2 separate regions of the Homo sapiens genome follow, and region 2 is linked to region 1. A link means that fine-mapping ties the variant in region 1 to the expression of a gene that starts in the linked region. Tissue or cell type: non-classical monocytes. Region 1 holds a variant in brackets; the other region holds the start of a gene. All regions are shown on one strand. Distances are from middle to middle.

What was found. PIP is the estimated chance that this variant, and not a neighbour inherited with it, causes the effect.
Region 2: it holds the start of PSEN1, and the variant in region 1 is fine-mapped to the expression of PSEN1 in non-classical monocytes (Schmiedel 2018, PIP 0.95).

Annotation. Positions count from the first base shown.
Region 1 is chr14:73,245,877-73,253,976 of GRCh38, forward strand. PAPLN (papilin, proteoglycan like sulfated glycoprotein) reads left to right here. Exons shown (of 27, transcript NM_001365906.3): 5 at 197-299; 6 at 4,108-4,238; 7 at 5,031-5,154; 8 at 5,610-5,690; 9 at 5,788-5,960; 10 at 6,142-6,265; 11 at 6,773-6,899; 12 at 7,878-8,085. PAPLN-AS1 (PAPLN antisense RNA 1) reads right to left here and starts at 125. Exons shown (of 2, transcript NR_135248.1): 1 at 1-125. It also overlaps the pseudogene RNU6-419P. RefSeq lists silencers at 1-229, 2,698-2,777 and enhancers at 1,177-1,246, 1,385-1,886. The variant T/C (reference allele first, on the strand shown) is at 4,049.
Region 2 is chr14:73,132,896-73,140,995 of GRCh38, forward strand. PSEN1 (presenilin 1) reads left to right here and starts at 3,612. Exons shown (of 12, transcript NM_000021.4): 1 at 3,612-3,688. RefSeq lists silencers at 3,392-3,471, 3,732-3,791 and an enhancer at 3,962-4,071.

The sequences.
Region 1 (8,100 bases):
CTTGCCCTCCACAGCCTAGAGCACCATGGAGGGGCACGCACAGGAGTTCGGGGGTCCGGGGGGCGGACTCCACCTCCGGCGGCTCCGATGGGGCAGGCAAGGGAGACTCCTGGGCTCCCTGGGCTCGGGCGGGGCGGGAGGTGGGCGGACCTCGGACTCCGCCCTCCTGGATCCCGACTTCCCCTCCGCCCCGCAGAGCTGCCCCGACGGCGCCCGGGACTTCCGGGCCGAGCAGTGCGCGGAGTTCGACGGAGCGGAGTTCCAGGGGCGGCGGTATCGGTGGCTGCCCTACTACAGCGGTGAGCGCGGCCGGGACTCGCTCTCTCGGGGCCTCTTGTATACCTACGTTGATGCCACAGTTCCTATTGCCGTATTATAGAGGCGTTGTCATATATATATATATTAGAGACAGTCTCACTGTGTTGCCCAGGCTGGTCTTGAACTCCTGGGCTCAAGGGATCCGCCGGCAGCGACCTCCCAGAGTGCTGGGATTGCAGGCGTGAGCCACTGTACCCGACCAATTTTTTTTTTTTTTTTTTTTTTTTTTTTTGGGTGGGCGCGGGGGCTCGCAATGTACAGGAAATCTTGTAGACCACAGGACCCACCTTTGGGGAGGAGAGGGTCTGCAGAGGTCCCTCGAGAGAGAGCAAGAGGTCTCTCTTTTTCTTTATCTTTTTTTCTTTTCTTTCTCTCTCGTTCTCTCTCGCTTGCTCTTTTTTCTCTCTTCCTTTCCTTTCCTTTTTTTCTTTTCCTTTTTCTTTCTTTCTTTTTTTTTTTTTTTTGAGACAGGATCTTGCCCAGGCTTGAGTGCAGCAGTGTCATGTCAGCTGGGCAGCATGTACCTCCCAAGCTCAATCAATCCTTCCACCTCAGCCTCCCAAATAATTTTTAAAGTAAATATGGAATGCTTCATGAATTTGCATGCCATACCAGCTAAGGGGGCAGGGGCTGTGCTAATCTCTGTATCGTTCCAATTTTAGTATATGTGCTGCCAGAGCCAGCATTTGTCAAATACCCCATCGATCAACCCATAATGAATCAATCACCAGTACCCCTGCTCCCCCCAGCACATGCCCGTGGCAACACCATGGCAGCCATTTTGAGGTCTTTCCATCCTTTCTCCCCTTATGTATGTATATTTTCAAACGAAGCTATGGTGTGTCTATACCATTTTGAGCCCTGTTTTTGCTCAGTCTGCTATGGGAAGCGTTCCTCCCGTCGCACAGAGACGGAGATGGGGAACCCCGGGAGCGGTAGCAATGGTGCCCCACGGTCATCCTGCAGGAGGGGCTGGAAGGGGCTTGGTACACCAAGACTTCATTTATCAAGGATCTGGGGGCCAGAGGAGATGGTCTGTGCACCTCTGAGGAGGGTATAAGTCATTAATTTTTAGAGAAATACAGTTCAGGGAAAAAACACCCAGGTAAGCACCAACATGTATGTCATTAAGCATTTTAGATGAATCAGAAGATTCCTCAAGACAAGTCTTCTGAGTGTTCGTTTTCCCTGCTTGCGGCAAATGACCTCTGGAGACCCTGTGGCACTCTAGATTCCAGATCAAGGAGCACTTATATTCTCTCTGTGTGTGTGTGGTGGGGATCGTGGCTGTGGGCATGGCCCAGTGGGAGTCTCATATCCTGTGTATGTGTGTGTGTGTGTTGTGGGGATCGTGGCTGTGGGCATGGCGCAGTGGGAGTCTCATGTCCTCTGTGCGTGTGTGTGTGTGTTGTGCCGATCGTGGCAGTGGGTGTGGCCCAGTGGGAGTCTCTTATCCTGTGTGTGTGTGCGTGTGTGTGTGTGTGTGTTGTGGGGATCGTGGCTGTGGGCATGGCCCAGTGGGAGTCTCATGTCCTCTGTGCGTGTGTGTGTGTGTTGTGCCGATAGTGGCAGTGGGCGTGGCCCAGTGGGAGTCTCTTATCCCGTGTGTGTGTGTGTGTGTGTGTGTGTGTGTGTGTGTGTGTGTGGTGGCGATCGTGGCTGTGGGCGTGGCCCAGTGGGAGTCTCATATCCTCCGTGTGTGTGTGTGTGTGTGTGTGTGTGTGTGTGTGTGTGTGTGTGTTGTGGGGACCGTGGCTGTGGGCATGGCCCACTGGGAGTCTCATATCCTCTGTGTGTGTGTGTGTGTGTGTGTGTGTGTGTGTGTGTGTGTGTGTTGGGATTGTGGCTGTGGGTGTGGCCCAGTGGGAGTCTCATATCCTCTGTGTGTGTGTGTGTGTGTGTGTGTGTGTGTGCGCGTGTGTGTGTTGTGGGGATCGTGGCTGTGGGCATGGCCCAGTGGGAGTCTCATATCCTCTGTGTGTGTGTGTGTGTGTCTGTGTGTGTTGTGGGGATTGTGGCTGTGGGCATGGCCCAGTGGGAGTCTCATATCCTCTATGTGTGTGTGTGTGTGTGTGTGTGTTGTGGGGATTGTGGCTGTGGGCGTGACCCAGTGGGACTCTAGCTTTCAGAATTCCCCCTGGATCCTGAAGTGGACACATGTCAAAAATAATTTGATTATAGTCACATGATAGAAAAATTGGAACACAGGGGAAAGTCTAAAAAGAGAGTAGAGGGATACCTTCCATGGTATGGAGATGATTATAATCCTGTTTGTACTTTTGGGTTGTTTTAAAATGTGTATATATTTAGATAAATATAAAAATTAAGGTAGGGTACAGTGGCTCATGCCCGTAATCCCAGCACTTTGGGAGGCTGAGGCAGGAGGATCACTTGAGTCCAGGAATTTGAGACAAGCCTGGGCAATGTGTGAAACCCCATCTCTACCAAAAATACGAAGATTAGCCAGGCATACAAAGATTAGCTAGGCATGGTTGCACACCCATGTAGTCCCAGCTATTCGAGAAGCTGAGGTGGGAGGATCACTTGAGCCCAGGAAGTTGAGGCTGCAGTGAGTCAAGATCACACCACTGCACTCCAGCCCGGACGACAGAGTGAGATCTTGTCTCCAAAAGAAGAAAAAAAAATTAAAACCAGGCCAGGTACAGTGGCTCCTGCTTGTAATCCTGGTGCTTTGGAAGGCTGAGGCAGGAGGATCATTTGAGCCCAGGAGTTTGAAACCAGCCTGGGTATCGTAGTGAGACCCTGTCTCTACAAAAAATAAAAAAATTAGCTGGGTATGATGGCATGTGCCTATAGTCCCAACTATTCGAGAGACTGAGGCTGGAGGACCACTTGAGTCTCGGAGGTAGAGGCTGCTGTGAGCTTTGATCGTGCCTCTGCATTCCAGCCTGGGAGACAGAGTGAGATCCCATCTGAAAAACATTAAAACCAGAAAAAAGTTATCCTCATCCTGCCCCTTTCACAAGATCACTGTTAGCATTTCATTTTAGCCCCTTTCACATTATTCTCTCCATATATGCTTACATATTTGTAATTATTGCATAGTAATCACCATTTTGCATTCTGTGTTTTAAGCATCTTCCCACACCATATAGTCTTCACAATCATCATTTGTAACTGCATAGTCAGCATGTGTAATATTCCATTGATAATTTATTTAAAGAGTAGCCTGTTATGGCCATGCACAGTGGTTTACACCTGTAATCCCAGCACTTTGGGAGGCTGAGGCAGGTGGATCACCTGAGGTCAGGAGTTCGAGACCAGCCTGCCCAACATGGTGAAACCCCATCTCTACTAAAAGTACAAAACTTAGCCGGGTGTGGTGGCGCGTGCCTGTAGTCCCGGCTACTAGGGGGGCTGAGGCAGGAGAATTGCTTAAACTAGGGAGGCGGAGGTTGCAGTGAGTCGAGATCGTGCCACTGCACTCCAGCCTGGGCAACAAGAGCGAGACTCCACCTCAAAAAAAAAAAAAAAAAAAAAGTAGCCTGTTGTAACCACCTCAGCTGTGGTAAATAATGCTGAGGTAGACTTCTTTAAGTGTTTCACTTTTTCCTGATTCTGGGATTTTTCTTCGACTTGATCCTTAGAGGTGCAACAGATTCATGGAGACGGTCCCTTCTCCTGGGGATGGGGCGGGGATCTGTGCTCTGCGGGGCCTGCTGCAGGGCTTTCTGACCCATGCTTTCCTGTTGCTAGGGTAAGCCTTGGG[T/C]CTTGGGGAGGGGCATCATCAACCTCAGGATCTCAGTCTTGCCTTCCTGCCCACCCCAGCCCCAAACAAGTGTGAACTGAACTGCATTCCCAAGGGGGAGAACTTCTACTACAAGCACAGGGAGGCTGTGGTTGATGGGACGCCCTGCGAGCCTGGCAAGAGGGATGTCTGTGTGGATGGCAGCTGCCGGGTGAGTGGTGCCCCAGCCCCTCCCTGCCTCCGGGCTGCCTGGGGGCTCAGTGCGGGTGTTTCCCTGTCCATCACCCATAGGCCCAGGTAGCTGCCATGAGCTTGGTGTCTTCTCAAGTTACCAGGACACCAAGCCCAGCTCCTAGGGTACCTTGCAGGCATCACAGATGCCCTATGGCCCCTCACCTTCATCCTTGGAGAACGCTAGCCCTACAATAAGAGAAACCCTCTGGGTGGCAGAAATCCGGCTAAAACCGACTTCAGAAAAACAAACAGCAGGGACAGCCGCAGGCGCATGAATGAGGTGCCACTCGGCTTTCCTCTCCTTGGGTCCAGCATCAGGATCTGGCCCATTCTTCCCAGGAGGTGTGGAGGTGGCCGCCAGCTGCTCCGACCTTCTGCTCCCTAGAAAGGGAATTCCCAGGGAAAGGGGGCCTCATTCCCAGGAGTTCTAGCCACCGGGGGTTGTCTCTGATTCGTCTTGGTTTGGGACTTACCCTGAACCACTCCAACCTCCCCAAACCCACATTTGGGGAGCTCCGTTCAAACTCTGCGGGAGAGAGGTGGCCCCTCAAGGAAAACAGGGCATTATTACCAGAAGGGGAGATGGGAGCTGAGCAGACAGAGAAGTGGATTGTCAGCCACAGGCCAGTCCCCTGGCTGGTGGCTGAATCACTCCCGACCACCCTATCCTGCCTGGGCTGCGTGGGTGCTGGGGTTAGGATGCGACGGGGCCCAAGGCCTGATGTGGCCATGATGCCGTCTCCCCTGCCTCCCGCATCTCTGCCCACAGGTTGTCGGCTGTGATCACGAGCTGGACTCGTCCAAGCAGGAGGACAAGTGTCTGCGGTGTGGGGGTGACGGCACGACCTGCTACCCCGTCGCAGGCACCTTTGACGCTAATGACCTCAGCCGAGGTGGGGGTGGTTCCGACAAGGGGCAGTTGCCTGCCCCCTTCCTTGCCTGTCCCTTCCTTGCCTGTCCCTGCTCTGGCCTAGACTCCAGGCCAAGTGGCCCTCATGGCACTGGAAGGCTCTGATCATATCAGGTCACATCTGAAAGGCCCCCTGTGGCCTTTGGTTAGGACTCGTGCCCGCTCGTGCAGTCCCATCTCCTGCTGCCACCGCCTGGATGCCCTCCCCATCCCTTCCCACTCCCAGTGTGCTCCGGGTGCCCTGAGCCTTCCCGCCACCCTGGCTTTTGTACTGCGGCCTCTTCTGCCAGGGTTGCCTTTCCCAGCAGCTCGGCCCTGTCTGGCTCTTGTGTACCCTCCCTGCCCCCATTCTGTGCTGTGTGGCACTTGGAGTCCTGTTTGAGTGGTGCCGGGAGAGGGATAGCCCAGCACACCCAGCACCTGCGTCTCTGCCCCCAGGCTACAACCAGATCCTCATAGTTCCCATGGGTGCCACCAGCATCCTCATCGACGAGGCTGCTGCCAGCAGGAACTTCCTGGGTGAGAGCCTAGGGTTAGGTCCTAGGCAGGTCTGGGGCTGCAGGGGGAGGTGCGGCACTGCTCCCTCTGGCTGACTGAGGCGGTCTCCTCTGCGCAGCTGTGAAGAATGTTCGTGGGGAATACTACCTCAATGGGCACTGGACCATCGAGGCGGCCCGGGCCCTGCCAGCAGCCAGCACCATCCTGCATTACGAGCGGGGTGCTGAGGGGGACCTGGCCCCTGAGCGACTCCATGCCCGGGGCCCCACCTCGGAGCCCCTGGTCATCGAGGTAAATGGGGGTGTGGGGAGAGAGGGCGAGTGGGCAGCTCGTGGTCCCCAAGAGGCTGCCAAGCTCTGTACATGGGGGGTTGAGTGGCTCTGGGCTTGAGGCTGGCAGGGGGCTGTGAGGCTGCGGAGGGTGTGGGAGTGCTCCCCAGCAGCAGACCCCAACAAGGACTCTCCCGTGACAGCTCATCAGCCAGGAGCCCAACCCCGGTGTGCACTATGAGTACCACCTGCCCCTGCGCCGCCCCAGCCCCGGCTTCAGCTGGAGCCACGGCTCATGGAGTGACTGCAGCGCGGAGTGTGGCGGAGGTGCGGGCGTGGATGGCCCAGGGGAGGGCATGGGCCCTGTGTGCTGGATCCCACGGCCACAGGTGGGCAAGTCACAGCCCTCTCCTCAAGGCAGTCCCTCCTGGGGAGATGGACAAGTAGGCGAGAAATCTCTGTGTTATGGGGGTCGCTTTGAGGAAAACCCAGGGATCTGGGGGACTCCATGAAGGACCCCAGCCTAAGCGAATAGAACCAGAGGGGGCTTCCCAGAGTCAGCGGCATCTCATAGGAGACAGACTCCCTCAGGACCGGAGCTGGGCCTGGGGTCAGTGATCAGGTGCCAGAGTAGGGCTCTCTCACAGCAAAAACCCTCAGAGCCTCAGTTTCCTCATCTGCCAATTGGAGATGTGGTGGCACCTGCCTCGGGGGGGTCATCTAAGACTGAATGGGGATGACCTGTGGGGTGAGTGCAGGATGGCGCCTGGCCCAGGGAACGCGCTTGGTGAATGTTGACTGGCGTCTGCCCGCCATGGCTGGGCCTCTGCGCAGGTCACCAGTCCCGCCTGGTGTTCTGCACCATCGACCATGAGGCCTACCCCGACCACATGTGCCAGCGCCAGCCACGGCCAGCTGACCGGCGTTCCTGCAATCTTCACCCTTGCCCGGAGACCAAGCGGTGAGACCTTGCCAGCCCCTCTACCCATGATGAGGCCCAAGAACTTGGGTGGGAAGGGAACAAGGCCTCCAAGCTGCTTTAGGTGTAGAACAAAGAGGTGGGGGTCCAGGGCCCCCCACGCTGTGGCTGGGGTGTGGGAGAGGTGGCAGCTCTTCCTGGGGGAGGCAGAGAATAGGCCTGAGCCCGGGGCTGGTCTCTCTGCTCTCCTGTGACCACGAAGTACTCAGAACACCTAGGCTTGGTGGCAGGAGGGTTGGAGAAGGTTCCAGAGGTCCCTGTCTGTCTGAGCCAGCAGAGGGTTTGGCTTGGCAGATGCCAAGGGGTGGGCCAGGGGTCAGGCCAAAGGGCCTGTTGGCATCGGCCATGGCTTTGTTCGTGCACAAAGGACCTCTTACCTGCACCGGCCTGGAGCGTGGCGCCTTGCTGGGGCCCAGCGAGTGTGTGGGAACAGGTAACCTGCAGGTCACAGGCTCCCCGCAGGGCTGGTGCCACCCTGTCACCGCTTGGCCTTGGTGGCAGCGGGCCTCCTGGGATGGTGGCGGACTTGGCTTTGCATGGGGCCACAGGGCTGCTCTTTCCTCTGGGTCCTTGCACCCGGGGCCTGGCAGAGCCGCTCCACGCATGGGTGAGCACAGCCTCTCCAGGAGCTGCCCCTTGACTAAGGTCAGACCGAGAGGAATGGAGTCTGACTGGGAGACAGGGACCTGGTGGGAAGGAGAAAGGGGGATAGGGTTGAGGACAGGAAAGCCAAGGGGGAGGCGCAGGGCCCCGAGTTGTGGGGAGCGCTCAGAGAGCCAGGCCCGGTGGTGGGGATGCTAAGGAGCGCCTGGGTCGTAGCCTTTGTTCAGGCTGGAGGCTCAGAGGATGGGCTGGGGTGGGGGTCCTCAGGCCACCTGTGTGAGTGAGGGCAGAAACCCTCAGGGCTGGGTTTCTGCCCATGCTCCTGGGCCAGCCTTACCTGATTCCCCCTCCTGCCAGCTGGAAGGCAGGGCCATGGGCACCCTGCTCAGCCTCCTGTGGAGGAGGCTCCCAGTCCCGCTCCGTGTACTGCATCTCGTCTGACGGGGCCGGCATCCAGGAGGCCGTGGAGGAGGCTGAGTGTGCCGGGCTGCCTGGGAAGCCCCCTGCCATTCAGGCCTGTAACCTGCAGCGCTGTGCAGCCTGGAGCCCGGAGCCCTGGGGAGAGGTCAGGCCCCTGGCC
Region 2 (8,100 bases), 110 kb before region 1:
ATGTCAGGCACCTCAGACCATTTGCCCATTTTTCGACAAAAATTATCTAGATCTTGTAGGATGGAGAAATCAAAAGTGCCGTTTTCTGGCTATTTGGGACCATTGTCGAATTTGTACTGGGGCCAAGCAGGGTTGTAGAAGAAAATAAGGTGTTTTGGTCTTAGGTCAAGTGTAAGTTGAAGAGGTTTTAAGTTCTTGAGAACACAGGCTAAGGGAGAAAGGGGAATGGAGGGTGGAAGTTTGCCCATAGTGAAGGAGGCAAGCCCAGAGAAAAGAGAGGGTAGAGACTTGGAGTGGGTGGTGGTACTTGCCACCCAGGGGAGGAGGTACTTGCCACCAAGGGGAGGTGGTACTTGCCACCAAGGTGAAGGATCAAGGCAGGCATCCCCGTGGTGATCAGACACCTCTGAAATGTGAGTGAATAATCAAGCAGGCGTTCCTGCAGTGATTGGACACCAAGGGAAAACTGTCTTCCCGAGTCTGTGACCAATGCCAGAGTTTTGGGTGCACAGATAAAATGTGTCTCCTTTGTCTCTACTAGAGAGGAAAAAACTGGAATTGGAAGGACAGGGAGATTAAAGGGTAGTGAGAAGGCTGGAGAAGAGAGTGAAAAGGCCGCTTACCCAATTTTAAATTGGTGAGATGTTCCTTGGGCTGATTGATGGGAGGACGCGAGGTCATAGGTGGATCTCCTCATGCAGTGAGGGTGAGGACAGGGGACCAGTTTCCCGAAGGAGTCCTCCTGTCCTGGGTCTTCAGCACCAAATGACACACACGTCCGTGTGAAGAGAGTCCACCAACAGGCTTTGTGTGAGCAACAAGGCTGTTTATTTCACTTGGGTGCAAGTGGGTTGAGTCCGAAAAGAGAGTCAGCAAAGGGAAATGGGGGTGGGGCAGTTTTATAGGATTTGGGTAGGTAGTGGAAAATTACAGTTAAAGGGGGTTGTGCTCTTGTGGGCAGGGGCGGGGGTCACAAGGTGTTTGGTGGGGAGCTCCAGAGACATTATCCAGGAGAAGGAATGTCACAAGGTAATGTCATCAGTTAAGGCAGGAACTGGCCATTTTCACTTCTTTTGTGGTCCTTCAGTTGCCTCAGGCCATCCGGATGTATACGTGAAGGCTTGGGCTCAGAGGCCTAACAGTAGGACATAAAGAAAATGAGAAGAAAATTATCTGAAGGCTGGTTATTCAATGTTAGGGTTTGCTATTTTTTTAAAATCTTACTGCCTTTTTGTTGCAGGACTTTTTTTTTTTTTTGGGAAAAACAGAGTCTCACTGTGTCTCCCAGGCTGGAGTGCAGTGGTGCAAACTCGGCTCACTGCAAACTTTCCTTCTCAGATTCAAGCCTCAGCCACCTGAGTAGCTGAGATTACAGGCCCACACCACCATGCCGGGCTAATTTTTGTATTTTTAATAGAGACGGGGTTTCACCATGTTGTCCAGGCTGGTCTTGTACTCCCAACCTCAAGTGATCCTCCTGCCTTGGCCTCCCAAAGTGCTGGGATTACAGGCATGAGCCACCGTGACCAGGCGTTCATGAAAAATTTTCATGACATTCTGTGAGGTGGGTGGACCATAATTTATTGTACCACATTTATTTATTTATTTATTTATTTATTTATTTATTTATTTATTTATTTTTATTTTTTGAGACATAGTTTCGCTCTTGTTGCCCAGGCTGGAATGCAATGGCGCAATCTCGGTTCACTGCAACCTCTGCCTTCCAGGCTCAAGCAATTCTGCCTCAGCCTCCCAAGTAGCTGGGATTACAGGCATGCGCCACCACGCCTGGCTAACTTTTTTTGTATTTTTAGTAGAGACGGGGTTTCTCCATGTTGATCAGGCTGGTCTCGAACTCCTGACCTCAGATGAGCCGCCCACCTTGGCCTCCCAAAGTGCTGGAATTACAGGCGTGAGCCACCGCACCCTGCCTATTGTACCATATTTAGTTTCCCAATTTTTTGCTATATAATATTCCATGAATATCTTTGCCCAAAATTTTTGTAGATTGTTTCTAAGAATAGTTCATCAGCATTTTAAGACATCCTATTAATATTAGCGGACTGCAATCAGATTGAAGTAGTTCACAAATAGATGGGTTTTAGCCTGTATTTGTTCAATACTGAACTATTGTATGTATCAGGCACTGTTATGTATCAGGCACTGTTCTCAGCACTTGTAAAATGTATATGTGCTGCTGACAAGCATGAGCACTTGTAAATGAACAAACTAAAATCCCTACTCTTGTTAAAGTGGGGGAGGTGAAGAATTTTAAAAACATCTTTTTTCGTTCAACCTTCTCCCACAACTTATCTTTCATTCTGCTAATGGAAAATATTACTTTTGTTCTTAAATATGAAGCTTTTGTGTGTAAAAAGTATTAGAATCTCATGTTTTTGAACAAGGTTGGCAGTGGGTTGGGAGGAGGGATTGGAGATTGATGCGATAGGAATGTGAAGGGATAGCTTGGGGTGGATTTTATTTTTTAATTTTAATTTTTATTTTTTGAGATGGAGTCTTGCTCTGTCTCCCAGGCTGGAGTGCAGTGGTGTGATCTCAGCTCACGGGTTCAAGCGATTCTCCTGCTGCAGCCTCCCGAGTAGCTGGGATTACAGGAGCGCGCCACCACACCCGGCTAATTTTTTTGTATTTTTAGTAGAGACGGGGTTTCACCATGTTGGTTAGGCTGGTCTAGAACTCCCAACCTCATGATCCGCCTGCTTCGGCCTCCCAAAGTGCCGGAATTACAGGCGTGAGCGACTGCACCCGGCCGCTTGGGGGTGGATTTTTAAAGAAACTTTAGAAGAATGTAACTTGCCCAGATACCATGTACCGTTAATTTCATTTTCGGTTTTTTGAATACCCATGTTTGACATTTCTCCGTTCACCTTGATTAAATAAGGTAGTATTCATTTTTTAGTTTTAGCTTTTGGATATATGTGTAAGTGTGGTATGCTGTCTAATGAATTAGACATTGGTACTGTCTTTACCAAAACTGGACAAAGAGCAGGCAGATGCAAAAATCAAGTGACCCAGCAAACCAGACACATTTTCTGCTCTCAGCTAGCTTGCCACCTAGAAAGACTGGTTGTCAAAGTTGGAGTCCAAGAATCGCGGAGGATGTTTAAAATGCAGTTTCTCAGGTTCTCGCCACCCACCAGAAGTTTTGATTCATTGAGTGGTGGGAGAGGGCAGAGATATTTGCGATTTTAACAGCATTCTCTTGATTGTGATGCAGCTGGTTCGCAAATAGGTACCCTAAAGAAATGACAGGTGTTAAATTTAGGATGGCCATCGCTTGTATGCCGGGAGAAGCACACGCTGGGCCCAATTTATATAGGGGCTTTCGTCCTCAGCTCGAGCAGCCTCAGAACCCCGACAACCCACGCCAGCGCTCTGGGCGGATTCCGTCAGGTGGGGAAGGCCAGGTGGAGCTCTGGGTTCTCCCCGCAATCGTTTCTCCAGGCCGGAGGCCCCGCCCCCTTCCTCCTGGCTCCTCCCCTCCTCCGTGGGCCGGCCGCCAACGACGCCAGAGCCGGAAATGACGACAACGGTGAGGGTTCTCGGGCGGGGCCTGGGACAGGCAGCTCCGGGGTCCGCGGTTTCACATCGGAAACAAAACAGCGGCTGGTCTGGAAGGAACCTGAGCTACGAGCCGCGGCGGCAGCGGGGCGGCGGGGAAGCGTATGTGCGTGATGGGGAGTCCGGGCAAGCCAGGAAGGCACCGCGGACATGGGCGGCCGCGGGCAGGGCCCGGCCCTTTGTGGCCGCCCGGGCCGCGAAGCCGGTGTCCTAAAAGATGAGGGGCGGGGCGCGGCCGGTTGGGGCTGGGGAACCCCGTGTGGGAAACCAGGAGGGGCGGCCCGTTTCTCGGGCTTCGGGCGCGGCCGGGTGGAGAGAGATTCCGGGGAGCCTTGGTCCGGAAATGCTGTTTGCTCGAAGACGTCTCAGGGCGCAGGTGCCTTGGGCCGGGATTAGTAGCCGTCTGAACTGGAGTGGAGTAGGAGAAAGAGGAAGCGTCTTGGGCTGGGTCTGCTTGAGCAACTGGTGAAACTCCGCGCCTCACGCCCCGGGTGTGTCCTTGTCCAGGGGCGACGAGCATTCTGGGCGAAGTCCGCACGCCTCTTGTTCGAGGCGGAAGACGGGGTCTGATGCTTTCTCCTTGGTCGGGACTGTCTCGAGGCATGCATGTCCAGTGACTCTTGTGTTTGCTGCTGCTTCCCTCTCAGATTCTTCTCACCGTTGTGGTCAGCTCTGCTTTAGGCATATTAATCCATAGTGGAGGCTGGGATGGGTGAGAGAATTGAGGTGACTTTTCCATAATTCAGGTGAGATGTGATTAGAGTTCGATCTGCGGTGGTGGCAGAGGCTTACAAGAAACACTAACGGGACATGGGAACCAATTGAGGATCAGGGAATAAAGTGTGAAGTTGACTAGGAGGTTTTCAGTTTAGAACATGGCAGAGACATTCTCAGAAATAAGGAAGTTAGGAAGAAAGACCTGGTTTAGAGAGGAGGGCGAGGAAGTGGTTTGGAAGTGTCACTTTGGAAGTGCCAGCAGGTGAAAATGCCCTGTGAACAGGACTGGAGCTGAAAACAGGAATCAATTCCATAGATTTCCAGTTGATGTTGGAGCAGTGGAGAAGTCTAAGCTAAGGAAGGGGAAGAGGAGGCCAAGGCAAACACTTAGGAACACTTGCAACGAGGGGGTGGAAGAAGAGCAAGGAGCCAGCTGAGGAGAATGAGTGTGGTTGGAGAACCACCACAGCGCAGGGTCGCCAGAGCTGAGGAAGGGGAGGGAAGCTTCAGGAAGGAAAAGGTTGGCAGGGATTTTGAGTGTTAGGCCTGGTGTAGCAGAAGGAACAGAAGATTTAGAGCAGCGCTAGCCAATAGAAATAAAATGTGAGGCCCGGGGCGGTGGCTCACGCCTGTAATCCCAGCACTTTGGGAGGCCGCGGGGCGGATCCTTGAGCTGAGGAGTTCGAGACCAGACAACACGGCGAAACCCCGGCTCTACAAAAAATTAGCTGGGCGTGGGGGCGCGCGCCTGTAGTCCCAGCTGCTCCCAAGCGAGGCTGAGGCAGGAGAATCACTTGAACCCGGGAGAAGGAGGTTGCAGTAAGCCAAGATTATGCCACTGCACTGCAGCCTGGGCAAAAGAGTGAGACTGTCTCAAAAAAAAAAAAAACCTGTTTTGTTTTTCTTTTGGAGAAAAGGCATACAAATTTATTAGCATGCAGACTGGGAGAACCACAAGGTGATTATCCCTATTTTAAATTTTCTAATAAACATACTATTATTTATTTATTTATTTATTTATTTATTTATTTATTTATTTTTTGAGACGGAGTCTGGCTCTGTCGCCCAGGCTGGAGTGCAGTGGCGCGATCTCAGCTCACTGCAAGCTCCGCCTCCCGGGTTCACGCCATTCTCCTGCCTCATCCTCCCCAGCAGCTGGGACTACAGGCGTCCGCCACCACGCCCGGCTAATTTTTTTGTATTTTTAGTAGACACGGGGTTTCACCGTGTTAGCCAGTATGGTCTCGATCTCCTGACCTCGTGATCCGCCCGCCTCGGCCTCCCAGAGTGCTGCGATTACAGGCGTGAGCCACCCTGCCCGGCCGGCTATTTATTTTTTTAGAGATGGGAGCCTCACTATGTTGCCCAGGCTGGTCTTGAACTCCTGGAGTCAAGTGATCCTCCCGCCTTGGCCTCCCAGAGTGGTGGGATACAGGCACAAGCCACTGTGCCTAGCCATAAACACATTTTTAAAGGTAAAAAAAGGCCGAGCGCGGTGGCTCACCCCTGTAATCCCAGCACTTTGGGAGGCCGTGGCGGGCGGATCATGAGGTCAGGAGATCGAGACATCCTGGCTAACACGGTGAAACCCCATCTCTACTAAAAAATACAAAAAAAAAAAAATTAGCCGGGCGTGATGGCGGGCGCCTGTAGTCCCAGCTACTCGGGAGGCTGAGGCAGGAGAATGGCGTGAACCCGGGAGGCGGAGCTTGCAGTGAGCGGAGATCGCGCCACTGCACTCCAGCCTGGGCGACAGAGCCAGACTCTGTCAAGAAAAAAAGAAAAAAAATGTAAAAAGAGGCTGGGTGGCCGGGCGCAGCGGCTCACGCCTGTAAACCCAGCACTTTGGGAGGCCGAGGCGGGTGGATAACCAGATCAGGAGATGGAGACCATCCTGGCTCACGCGGTGAAACCCCGTCTCTACTAAAAGTACAAAAAATTAGCCAGACATGGTGCCAGGCACTTGTAGTCCCAGCTACTCGGGAGGCTGAGGCAGGACAATGGCGTGAACCCAGGAGGCGGAGCTTGCAGTGAGCCGAGATCGCGCCACTGCACTCCAGCCTGGGCAACAGAGTGAGACTTCGTTTTTTTTTTAAAAAAAGGCTGGGCACAGTGGCTCACACCTGTAATCTGCCAGCACTTTGGGAGGCCGAGGCAGGTAGATCACCTGAGGTCAGGAGTTCGAGACCAGCCTCGCCAAAATGGTGAGACCCTGTGTCTACTAAAAATACAAAAAATTAGCCGGGTGTGTTGGCGTGTACCTGTTATCCCAGCTACTCGGGAGGTGAGGCAGGAGAATCGCTTGAACCCAGAAGGTGGAGGTTGCAGTGAGCCGAGATCATGCCACTGCACTCCAGACTGGGCTACAGAGCGAGACTCCATAAGAAAAAAAGAAAAAAAAGGGGGGCAAAAAGAAACAGATGAAACCAATGTGAATAATTTATTTTAACACAATATACCTAACATATTTTTATTTCAATATCTAACCAGTATAAAAATTTACTTGTTTTGCCCTCTAGAGATAGTAAGCTCCTTAAGTAAACAGAAGTAATACCTGATTAATTAGAATTCCCAACCCTCATCAAGTGTGTGCTTATATAGAAGAAACCCAGTAAATGTTTGTTGATTGAAAGATATTAATACTCTTGCTTGGATGAGAGTGAGGAAAAAGGTATTAGTATTGGCTTTTCACAACGCCTTGTACGGTTTCTTGTTTAAGTTGATCAAAGCAAAAGAAAGACTGCAGGCAATGCTAAATATAACAAGTGATTTACAAATTAATTAGACGTAAATAATCATTTTTCATTAAAAATTAGTTGTATTCTGTCCATTTCCTCAGAATTTTAGACAATGATTTTGAATAATCATATCTCCCTTATAGAGTTATTGAAATTAAATAACTTATTGGGAAAGATTCTTTATAATTATACAAAGGTATATAGGACCATAGTCTCATATCCAGAGTTCTGAAATCCGAAAACTAAAAGGTTTTTCTTTTTTTGCTATTCTTTTTTTTTTTTTTTTTTTTTTTTTTGAGACAGAGTCTCCCTCTGTCGCCCAGGCTGGAGTGCAGTGGCACAATCTCAGCTCACTGCAACGTCCGCCTCCCAGGTTCAAGTGATTCTTCTGCCTCAGCCTCCCGAGTAGCTGGGACTACAGGCGTGTGCCACCACACTGGGCTAATTTTTGTATTTTTAGTAGAGGTGGGGTGTCACCATATTGGCCAGGCTGGTCTCGAACTCCTGACCTCGTGATCCACCCGCCTCAGCCTCCCAAAGTGCTGGGATTACAGGTGCGAGCCACTGCACCTGGCCAAGGTTTTTTATAACTAATTTAACAGCAAAATCTGGCCTAGTTATCGTCTTTATTTTCTTTTTTTAATGTGATTTAAAACTATTCATTTGTTTCACTATAGCTTAATAATTTGTTTGCTTTTCTGCTTCTAAGACCCTGTAGGGGCATTATATAACTTCTGGCATTTGCATAGTACCTTTACAAAATCCAAAAAAATCTGAATTCTAAACACATTTAGTCCTAAAAGTTACAGATAAGGGATTCTGGACTTGCGATTCTAAGTCTTTGTTCGTTTTTATTGCATTTTCTGAGCCAACATAACCATTATTTAAAAACAAGTTGCTATAGTAACTCTACATTACAGACCTCCCCCAAACTCAGCAGTTCAGAGCATGTATTCTCACTCAGGGCTCTGCTTCCTTGTAGGTAGATGTGTGGATCGGTGAGGGCAGTTCTTATTTGTATGCCTTATTCTGGGGCCCAGGCTGAAGGGGCAGTGGCTATCCA